Linked DNA regions of Homo sapiens: region 1 is linked to region 2. Evidence: fine-mapped expression QTL. A gene starts in region 2. The other region holds a variant in brackets. All regions are shown on one strand. Distances are between the middles of the regions. Region 1 has its middle 13 kb from the start of LDLRAP1. Region 2 holds the start of MACO1 (macoilin 1).

The links. PIP is the estimated chance that this variant, and not a neighbour inherited with it, causes the effect.
Region 1: its variant is fine-mapped to the expression of MACO1 in whole blood (INTERVAL, PIP 0.97).

What each region holds. Positions count from the first base shown.
Region 1 is chr1:25,527,631-25,533,000 of GRCh38, reverse strand. No RefSeq gene overlaps it. Among named protein-coding and RNA genes, the nearest start is that of LDLRAP1, 13 kb to the left of the region's middle. The variant T/C (reference allele first, on the strand shown) is at 2,282.
Region 2 is chr1:25,428,534-25,433,844 of GRCh38, reverse strand. It overlaps MACO1 (macoilin 1), which reads right to left and starts at 2,948. Exons shown (of 11, transcript NM_018202.6): 1 at 2,667-2,948. The coding sequence starts at 2,746. It also overlaps a transcript of RHCE not described here. RefSeq lists silencers at 2,433-3,092, 3,483-3,922.

The DNA.
Region 1 (5,370 bases), 99 kb before region 2:
TGTGGACCCTTAGAGGATGGGGTTATGAATGCTGGGTTCAGTGCATAGCCCCAGGGCACGGAGGAGTCCAGTACACAGTAGGTGCTCAGTAAACATCCTGGGAGTGTGGCATGATGAATGCTCTCCAGCCTGACTTTGGTCCCTCGTCTTTCCACTCCCCAGCAGTCTGGGCTTCAGTCCCTTCCCTTGTCCGTTTCGCCCATTTTGGTTCCGATATCTCACGTCAGAACTTGGTGGTTCCAGCATTCTTTTCCAGACCTGAGTGATTCAGCCTTTCTGCTTCCTGCCAGCCCCAGGACTGTGGGTGTGAATGACAACTGCCCAGCAGGCTGCAAGGCGCTCAGCCTGGACCTCCGGGCTTCCCTCCTTCCTGGGATTCCTTAGGTCACTTCCATCGATTGTCTTTGGCTGCAACTTCTTGAGTTAATCTCTCCATGTTGGAAAGCTTCCCTTGCTGGTTTCCCCATCTGCTTCCAGCTTCAAGTCCTTTTTGGCTTCAAAACCACATGCCTGTGGTTCCAGCTACTGAGGAGGCTGAGGTGGGAGGATCGCTTGAGTCCAGGAGGTGGAGGCTGCAGTGAGCCGAGATCGCACCACTGCACTCCAGCCTGGGCAACAGAGTGAGACCCTGTCTGAAAAAAAAAAATCAAGAAACTTGGGTTCTGCTCTGTGTATTCCATCCAGGGCAAGTCCCTGCCCCTGTCTAATTTCCTCACGGTGTCTACAGGGTCATCACTAGCATATTTGATACCCATGTCAGAACTACTGATAGGTTCCCTCACCAATGGACAAAACACAAACAGGTGTCCCTTCCCCTATGCTGAGACATACAGCATGGAGACAGGCTGTCTTTCAGCCACCCTACCCATTCACTTTATGCCCTTGTGCAGTGCACAACCCACACAGCTGTGTTTAGGCAGCAGTCTTGCCAATCAGCCTCCCTCAGATGTATTTTCCCAAGGCCGTAACTGCTATGAGAATGGGTCTAAGCATCAATGACCCCCAGAAAACCCTTCTTTTTTTTGAGATGGAGTCTTGCTCTTGTCACCCAGGCTGGAGTGCAATGGTGCACTCTCAGCTCACTGCAACCTCCACCTCCCAGGTCCCAGTGATTCTCCTGCCTCAGCCTCCCAAGTAGCTGGGATTACAGGCGCCTGCCACCACGCCTGGCTAATTTTTGTATTTTTAGTAGGGACAGGGTTTCACCTTGCTAGCCAGGCTTGTCTTGAACTCCTGACCTCAAGTGATCTGGCCGCCTTGGCCTCCCAAAGTGCTGGGATTACAGGCATGAGCCACTGTGCCCGGCCAACCCTTCTAACCAGCAGGTTTTCTTTTTCTTGGGTTCTGCAGTAGGGCTGGGACTAGTGTGAGGCCTGGGATACGAAAGTCAAGACTCACATTCAGGGCTCGCTGAGGATGAGAGTGCCTCCGTAAACCTTGCACACAAGGCACCTCGCTGGCCTCACCTTCACCCTGGTCTGTTCTATGGATTCCCAACAGCTATAGGAGGTGGTGGCAGTGTTTTAAAGGAAAGTGCCAGAAAACCACCTCAGACTCACAGAGGGCAGCTTCTTTCAGCAGCTGGGAACCACGGAGGAGGCTGACTCTGCAAGAGGAACCCAGGGCAGGAGACAGTCCAGGGAGTGGGTGCCAGGGGAGGCGCTGTGCCAAGAAGTCAGCCTCGCCTAGAAGGAGGGTGACCTGCCGCCCTTGGGAGGGGAGCGAAGGGAGGGCCGGATAATCAGCCCCCTTGCTTGTGATCGAGGAGTGAAGGGAGGGCTGGGTAATCGGCCCCCTTGCTTGTGATTGAGAGGTTTATAGGAAAAGTTGTGGGGAAGGGGGTCGGGAACAGAGAAGGCCACGGCAGACCCGGGCTCTGCAGGCTGTACTCACACTCTGGGGAGGACACAGGGTCCAGGGGGACAGCCCGAGCAAGGCCCGGCCCTCACTCAGGAGTGGCCTTCTTGGCCCCCAGCACCCTTCCCTCCAGTTGCTTTGGAGACGTGGAGGCTGACCCCCTGATGCTTTGAGATACAAGGCCACCTGTGAGTCAGTTACCATTGTCAACACCCGGAGAATACCAGGACTACTGTCTCACCTCCCAGATCCCAGAAACCCTTTAGGCTGTGTTTCCCAAACCGCTAACATCCAAAATCACTTTCATCTTTGCCTGCACTGATAGCTATATAGTGTGTTTTGGAAAACCCACTCCTCTTTACTTAAATAATTATTTTCAAAGGAAACTATGCAAATAGAAAACAGCTCAGTTGCCATAAACAGA[T/C]GCGGGTGTTGTTCTTTCTGGCTGGATTCTGGTGCCCCCAGGACTGTGAACCCAGAGCCAGTCTCTGTTCAAAGAGGAGGTGAAGAAGGCAGAAAGATAAAGACCCGCAGCCCCGCAGCCCCGCAGAGGCTCTCCCCTCTCACCAGGGATGGAATCACTTTGTCCCTTGTTGTGGAGGCTGTGCCCACATGCCTCATGAATGTGTCTCCTCCTTGTGAAAAATGTTCCCAGGGGAGTCGCAGACAGTGGCTGGAAGAACTACCTTTTGCGGCTGGGGAGGGGAGACCGCTGGCTCTGGGAATGGCTGGGACCTGAGCACTCCCCCAGCCTCAGCCTTGTCCCCCCGTCTCAAGTGAGCAGCGGCTCTCGTGACAGAGGTGTTCAGAGGCGCTTCACATGAGATCGTCTGAACCCTGCAGTCCCGGGATCCAACCTGATCACGGGTGCAGCCTCCACCAGGCACTGCAGGAACGGGAGGCTGGAGGAGGCCCGGGCCCTGCCCTCTGGGTCTAGTTGGGGCTACAGGATGGCGCAGGCCCCTGGAGATGGCATCGCTAAGGGAAGGAACAGGAGGACCCTGAGCGGGTGGGAGGGCGCTGGGGGCTCGAGGGTGGGCTTGGTGCGGCTGGGCGGGGAGGGAGGGCAGTGGAATGAGCCAGGTGTGTGGGGGTGGGCAGAGGGGGTGTTGAGGGTCCCTAGACAGAGCAGAGGGACCAAGCCCCCAGGGTCTCCCACACCAGTGAGAAAAAATAGGACTGACTCCATCAGGGGGCACCAAGGGATTCTGAAGAGGAAAAACTAACCAAGGCGGTGTTTTCAGAAGAATGCCCCGCACCTGCAGTGCAGCGTGCCGTGAGCACGCCCCTCTTCTCAGTTATTCCCTGGGGCAGATGCCGTAGGCGCCTCCATCTACAAATGAAGAAAGGGACCCCCCTGCTGAGGCCCATGGTGGAGCCAGGGTAGGAGTCCTGTGGCAGGAGCATGGGCAGCGCCCCCATCCCACTGCAGACAGGACTGGGCACCCCTTCCTTCTTCTGCTCCAGTGGGTGAGGTGTGCCAGCAGGGGGGCCGGCTCTCCACAGCCCCTCCCTGACCGCCAAGCCACTTCCCCTGCTGGGAAGGGAGAGGAGGGGAGCTGTCTCTGCTGTCCCCTTGCACTGCGTAACACACAGCGCACCACAGCACACACAGTATACACATGACCCACAATACACACAACATGCATGCAACACACACACATGACACATACACACCACACACACAGGCACTATACACACAACGTACAATACACACACAACACATACACACAACATAAACATACACAAAGCACACAAACACACAACACATGCACACACTAAACACAACATACAACACACACAACACATATATACAGGCACAACACATACATACACACAAACGCATATTCTCAACACAACACACACACATACAATACACCACACACAACACACAACACAACACACACATGCACATACTATAGACAAAACCCACAGACTCCCCATCTGGTCCATGCCCAGGAGCTACTCCACGGAGGGAGGCAGCAGGCTGGGAGAGCAGAGGGAGGGGCTGCCCTCCATCCGCTACCCCCCAACCCCCGCTTCAGGCCCCACTTCATCAGAGAAACTTCTCTGTGCCCCCAGGCCAGGGCAGGGCTCCCACACATGGTTCCCTGTGTGTCCACAATGACCAGTCTGGGCGGTGGCGATGGAAAGCTTGATTGTGGGATTGTTGGATGCCTGTCTCCCCCTCAACTGTGAGCTCCATGAAGGAAAGGCCTGTGCCAGTTTTGCTGTCCCCTTAACCTCAGCCTGTGGTATAGGAGCTGGCACACAATGGGTGCCCAATAAATGCACGAACACAGAGCCCTTGGAAGAGGGGAAAGGTTGGGCCTCAGGGAGCTGCGGTCCTGGCTGCCGCAATGGCTCCCAGAGGGCTGGTTCATCTCAGGGTCCAGCCCCATCCCTGACACGGGAACCCCAGTTCTGTGAGCCTGGAGCGGGAGGAGGGGTGTTTGCAAAGGGAAGCCCATGAATTTGGCATGGCTGCGGTTTTGTGGTAACGGCTGTCTCCATGATCAAAACATGGCGTGTAATAAGGATGGCACTGGGACCTTCCCCTCGTGATTTCAGCTTCCCGATCCAACCAGCCCTCTGTCCTTCCACATCCTCATACACCAGGCGGGCCATCTGCCTGGTGCAGGGGTCCCCTGGTGCTTGCCCAGCCCTGTGGGCCTGTCCTCTGGCGTGCCAGCAGCAAGGAGGGCACTGGGTGGCTGGGCTCTTGGTCTACTCTTGCTGTGTGACACTGGCCATCTCTCTCTCTGGCCCTGGCTTTCCTCATCACTGAATGGAAGGGGGTGGATGCTTGGCGGCCAAGGGCTTCCCCGCCGGGCATCTCATGGGGTCTTGGGGGCAGCAGTAGATGGGCCTGGGGAGACCCGAGAGGGGAGGACACCCCTGTCATGGAACGGATGTGAGACCAGTTCCCTGTAGGCTCCAAGCCCAAGCTGCACACGGAGGGCACGGGCACAGCTTTGGGAGTGACGGCAAGAGCGCACGGGCTGGACACCTGATGCTGCCTGCCCGCCAGGGCCTGGGGCTGCAGAGAGGAGCAGAGGTAGCCCGGCTTCGCCCTGCCCTCAAAGGGTTCCAAGGCCGGGGAGACAGACCAGTCCACAAGAAGTGACAACACAAAAACTCTAGTGGGCGGCTGGCAGTGCTTGGGTGGGGGCGAATAACTCTGTAGCGGGGAAGGGAATATTCCCCATCATTTATTTATTATTTCTTTTCTGTGGTTTTAATATTATTGAGATATAATTTACATGACATAATGTTACTATTTTAAAGTGTACCGTTCAGTGGCTTTTCATACATCTACAGTGTGGTGCAACCGTCCCCACTAGCTAATGCCAGGACAGTTCCATCACCCCAAAAGGAAACCCTGTATTTTGCAGCGGTCACTCCCATTCCCTCCTCCCTCCAGCCTCTGGCAACCACTAATCCACTTTTGGTCTCTATGGAGTTACCTATTCTGAACATTTCATATGAATAGAATTCTATTCTACGTGGCCT
Region 2 (5,311 bases):
AATAGTATCTGTAAACTACACTAGGATTTATAAAGCATTTCACAAACTGTACATATCTCCTTTAGTCCTCAAAACTCATTTGAAGGTGGGAGAACTGGGGCTCAAAGCTGTGGATGCCCTGTCTGCCTAAAGCAGCAGAGCTGGGATTTTGAGTCTGATCCTGGGTCTCCTGATTCCTGCAGTCCAGTGCGCTTTTCACCACAGCTGCCTCCTTCCTATGCCAAGGCTCAGAAAGTTGTACAGACTGAGAACATGAAAATAGTAAGTCCATGAAAGGTTTGGCTATGAAACAGTAGACAGTGGTTATCAAAACTGTCAACACGGCCCCAGAAAAAAAACAAGGCTCTCTGTTTAATGAATCCAAAATTGGCCACATGTTGTTGAGAAACAAAATGGGCAATAGATGGTGTGAAAAACAACTTAGCATAGACTTAAATTTGATGATCACCAGAAATTTGATATTCATGAATCCTCAAGCATTCTAGTTTATAACCAGTCCACTCATCCTGTTTGCTTTAGAAATAACAGGAAATTTTTCTAAATCTCTTTAAAAACAGAATTGGGCAAAAAAAAAAAAATCTTGTTCTTCAGTCCAATACTCCATAATATAAACCAAGAAACAGATAAGTGAGTTGAAACGCTCATTTGATATATGATACTCCAACCAGGAAAGACAGTTAGAAATACATTTAGGTCTTTTATTAACATTTAACTTAAAGAATGCAAAACAGAGAAGCATAAGAAGATTTAAGGCTAATGCACTGTCGGTTTTTAAAATTTTGCAGATGAACCTCTGAATAACTTGCAAAGAGTATTTACAATTAACCTTTAGGGTAAGAAAATTCAAATTTCAAAAGCCATCAGTAAGATGATAAATCTTCATTAAACGATGAATTCACTTCTTCACATCGATTCACACTGAGTAGCTATTATGGCGCAGGTTGTAAACTGGGTCTATTTGTTCAAGTACAGAGAAATGGAAATACAGCAGAAAACACGTAAACAATATGGGACTCTCAATCTTCTTGCTATAAATGGAGGTACATCATCTTATGTTACTGTAAATAGCAGCTATTCAAATGCCACAGTTGTGCTAAGTCTACCAACTCGGTTTAATATCCCTTTCCTATTTTTATGTTACCATTAATGTTAAGTTGGTCAAATATTTTTCAATAGCCAAAGGGGAAAAACTTTCTTTAATTCAAGAATGTATAGTGTATGTAACGTGAATTGAAGAGACCTTTCCTCCATCTATGTGTAGAAAAAATTGTTTGCTTTCACAGTTCAAGTTAAAATGGTCAAGTTCGATTCATCCAGCATAGATTAGAGTCTGTTTTACTCACTGCTCTATCTTCACTGATTAGAAATGTTCCTGGCACATAGTATATATAACTGATGAATGAATGAATTACTCCTATGCTCTATGGCTCATTTTATAAGAATATACCCAAGAAATTTTTACTTTGATTCCTTAATGCTTTTAAACTTGAAGAAAATCCCCAGTGTTTACATCAGTCAGCTGCTTGTGGAAAGCAATCATTCCACATCTGTAAACAAGAGCATGTGCAAGGTGTACAGTTATGTTAAGACAACTTGGGTGTCATCAGCTACCTCACATATTTCTTGAAATCCCACAGCTAGAGAAGCTAATTGTAAAACACCATGAGGACTCAATTAAGCCTACATCCACATGCTGAGAATTCTTCTTTGTAAACTAATTACTTCTCCACCGAAATCTGTATCAAGGCAAATACCATTTACAAGTAACATTCTGAGAAGAACCAGAAAATAACAGTCGTACACAAATCGACTTGGGGAAGCTATGATAGTAAGTTGCCCCATGAACCTGTTGTCTTTCTCTACCGGTGGACTGAATTCAATTTCTATTTAAAGGGACACTGCTTTTCTTGCGGATGAAAAAAAAAAAAAAGAGTTTGGAGAAAATCCCTTTTTAAAAACGTTCAAAGCAAGCTATCTGCTTGGAATTGTCAAAACAATATTTGCTGAAAAACTGGTCATCAGACCCTTCCGAATCTGGAGCAGGGCCACAGGGCATGATTTGGGGGTATCAGCTTCAGCCCTGGGTGCCAAGTTTGAGATCCCATATGGGAAGCAGAAGGTGAAAGAAGTGACAGCATGGCCCCAGGCCAGTATGCTGGCAGCTTGGGGGAACGAGGGGCCACAGTGGGCTCTCAACTTTGTCAGCCTCCCCCACCCCCCCGCGCTGTGGTCCACGCGCCTCCTGGCTCCGGCCGGCAAGCCCCCAGGCCACCGGGGGGCTCGGGGGCCAGCGGCGGCCAGTCAGAGGTCCCGGAAGCGGCCCTCCCGGCCCAGCGGCATGGCCGGGATGCTGAGGAACGCCGGGCTGGTTGGGGGCTCTCCGCCCCTCCCCCCGGCGGGCCCGGCGCTTCCAACGGCGGCGCGGCGGCTCCCTCAGCCAGCGCCCGCCGCGCCCTGCCCGCCCGGCCGGGCCGACCCTCGCCACGCCCCGCGCACCCGGGGCGGACCCCGGCGGGCGGGCCAGCGGCTCCGGGGCCAGCGCTCCTTAGGAGAGCCCCCGGCGCGGGCGTGCGGCCTACTCGGGGTTACATAACGGGGCCAGGCCCCTCGGAGCTGGAGGGGGACCGCAGGGCCCGCGCCCGCGGAGTGGGGGTGCAGCCGCTCACCTGCCGTAAATGCCCTCGGTGATCCGGTTCCGCTTTAGGGGGCGGCGGAGCTTACTGCAGTCGGCGTTCCGCCGCTTCATCCTCCCGCTGGGGGGCCGGGTGCCCGCGCCGCCGCCGCCGTCTCTCACCTCAGCTGCCGCCGCCGCTGGCCCGCCCCGCGTCGGGCCTGGACTCTACCCCTGAGGCCGGTCACACAGACATGGAGCCAGCACCCGGGGGGAGGGGGTAGCACGGGGAGGGGGGGCTCGGAGCCTCCTCCGCCTTCGGAAACAAAGAAATGACAATTCCGGGGCCCGCCCGCCCAGCACCAGCCAGCCGCCTGCCCCGCCTCCTCGGCTCCGACGGACGGCCCGGGAGGCCAATAGAAGCCACCGGTAAACCGCTGTCGGCCAATCCCAGGGCCCGCTGAGGCAAAACTGACTCTAGAACCCGCCCCTTTGAAGGACGGAAGAATGCGCCAATCATTATAGTGTCTGGGTCCCCGGCTGAGCCTATCAGAAAAGATTTAAATAGAGGCTTATAAATAGGCCCTATAAATATAACATCCTATATTACGCCTTGTTGCGAAGGTATGCTTTATTATTATTGGGTTGCGTTTCATTGTATTGTAATCCCTACTAGAGCATACCGTACGGCATGGCATTGTAGGCTCTCGTCTAGCAATGTATGAAATCGGAAGGCCCGGGTTTGCGGCATGTGCGGTGTCTGCGCTGACGTGCGCTTCAGCCAGTCGCGTCATTATGTAAGGGAGCATCCCAGGAACAGCGCCGGGGACCCTTCTGCGGATGCTGGAGAGCTCGGCCAGGCCGACCGCGTCAGCGCGCACCGGGGGTACGAATGACAAAGCAAACCCCACACGCACACAGACACACACCCTGCCAGCTTCCCGCGACGTGGTGACAGCGCGCCGGCCAATCGGAGGTGGCGGCCCCGCCCCGGGTTACGCCACGGGGCGGAGCCGTGGGGGCGCGCGACGTAGCGCAGAGATGCCCGGGGCGTGTGCGGCGGTGCGGCCCGGGCTCCACGTCCACAGGCTGGGCAGCGCTGTGGGCCCCGCGGGCGCCGAGTCCGCAGGACCCGCGAGGGCACTACCGCGAAGCATCGGCCTCCGGGCCGGGCCGGGCCGGACCGGGAGCCTGCTCGGCGGGTCCGGGCTCCTGCAAGGCGGGGACGCGGGGCCGGCGACCCTTCACGCTTCGTACTCATTGAGCGCCGATTTTATGCCAGGCACCGTGCTGGGTAATTTGCGTGTATTTGCTCATTTACTCCTTATAACTCCCCTGCCACGTACGTATGGCAAAGTAACACTTAGAAAAGTCCGCATGGTGTTTTTTTTTAAGAGAAATAAAAAGAATGTTTATCATTAGAGAAAACTGGGGAAAATGTAGGAAAGTGGCCGAAAAGGAAAAAACACCAATGAGTCTCATCACATTAACACAAATACAGTTGACATTTTATTGTATTTGCTTGTTTTCCAATTTTCCCCTATGGATGATAATGTTACTATTGCTATTAAATAGAATAGTGGTCATACTAGAATAGTAGTCATACTAGAATAGTAGTCATACTGTTTTTAACATAAGCATTTTTACATGTTTTAATGCAGCTTTTATAAATATTTCTGAAAATATTGCAGAATGTCCTATCCAGTAGCTTTATCAGTGTAATCCCTCAACGACAATGGGGCAGTTAGTCTTCCAGTGCATTTTTAAAACTTCCCAGGAAGGGCTGGGCGCGGTGGCTCACGCCTGTAATCCCAGCACTTTGGGAGGCCGAGGCGGGTAGATCACGAGGTCAGGAGATCGGAGACCATCCTGGATAACATGGTGAAACCCCATCTCTACTAAAAATACAAAAAATTAGCTGGGCATGGTGGCGGGCACCTGTAGTCCCAGCTACTCGAGAGGCTGAGGCAGGAGAGCGAGACTTTGTCTCAAAAAAAAAAAAAAAAAAAAAACTTCCCAGGAAGTAGATGCCATTTTGTTTTGTCCTGGGTTTCACAGAACTCTCTCTGGCCTGTAATCACCCCTCCCTTAATCAACATCTACCCCAGGGAGAAACTTTACACCAAATGCGTTGTCCTCAATCATGACTCTGTGTTACTTTCTTCTGCTCACAAACCTTCAAAGATCTCCCAGTGCCTGGAAGAGAAAACCCATTCTGTTTCGAAGGGCATCCAGAGCTGGTCACAGTGGGGACCCACCCTCCTTTTCCAGGCTACGCCAGGCAAGCAAACCGTTTTTCTCACTATCCTTAAATCCACTGCAACCGATCTTTCCCCCTTCCTGCCTCTGCCCCAACACAGTATCTCTGTCAGTGCCGCTTCTGGTGTGTGGTTTCTTAGGCAAGGCTTATCCATCCACTTAGGCAAAAAGCTTCTTGGAGATCAAATCTATACCCTGCAGAGATACAGTTAAGAAAAATGGCCAAAGTACTTGCTTTTTCAGAGTAGGGCTGAAATTCTAGCTTGGCCACTTACTAGCTTGGACAAGTTACTAAATCTCTCACAGTCTGTTTCCACTCAGGTTTGTTTTAAGGCTTGGAGGACAATGAGCCTTCAGAGCCAGACAAGCAGTAGGTAACAGAAAGTAACTGCTGTTAGCAGTATACTTGTTTCTCATGCCTTAATTCTACTTCAGTATATT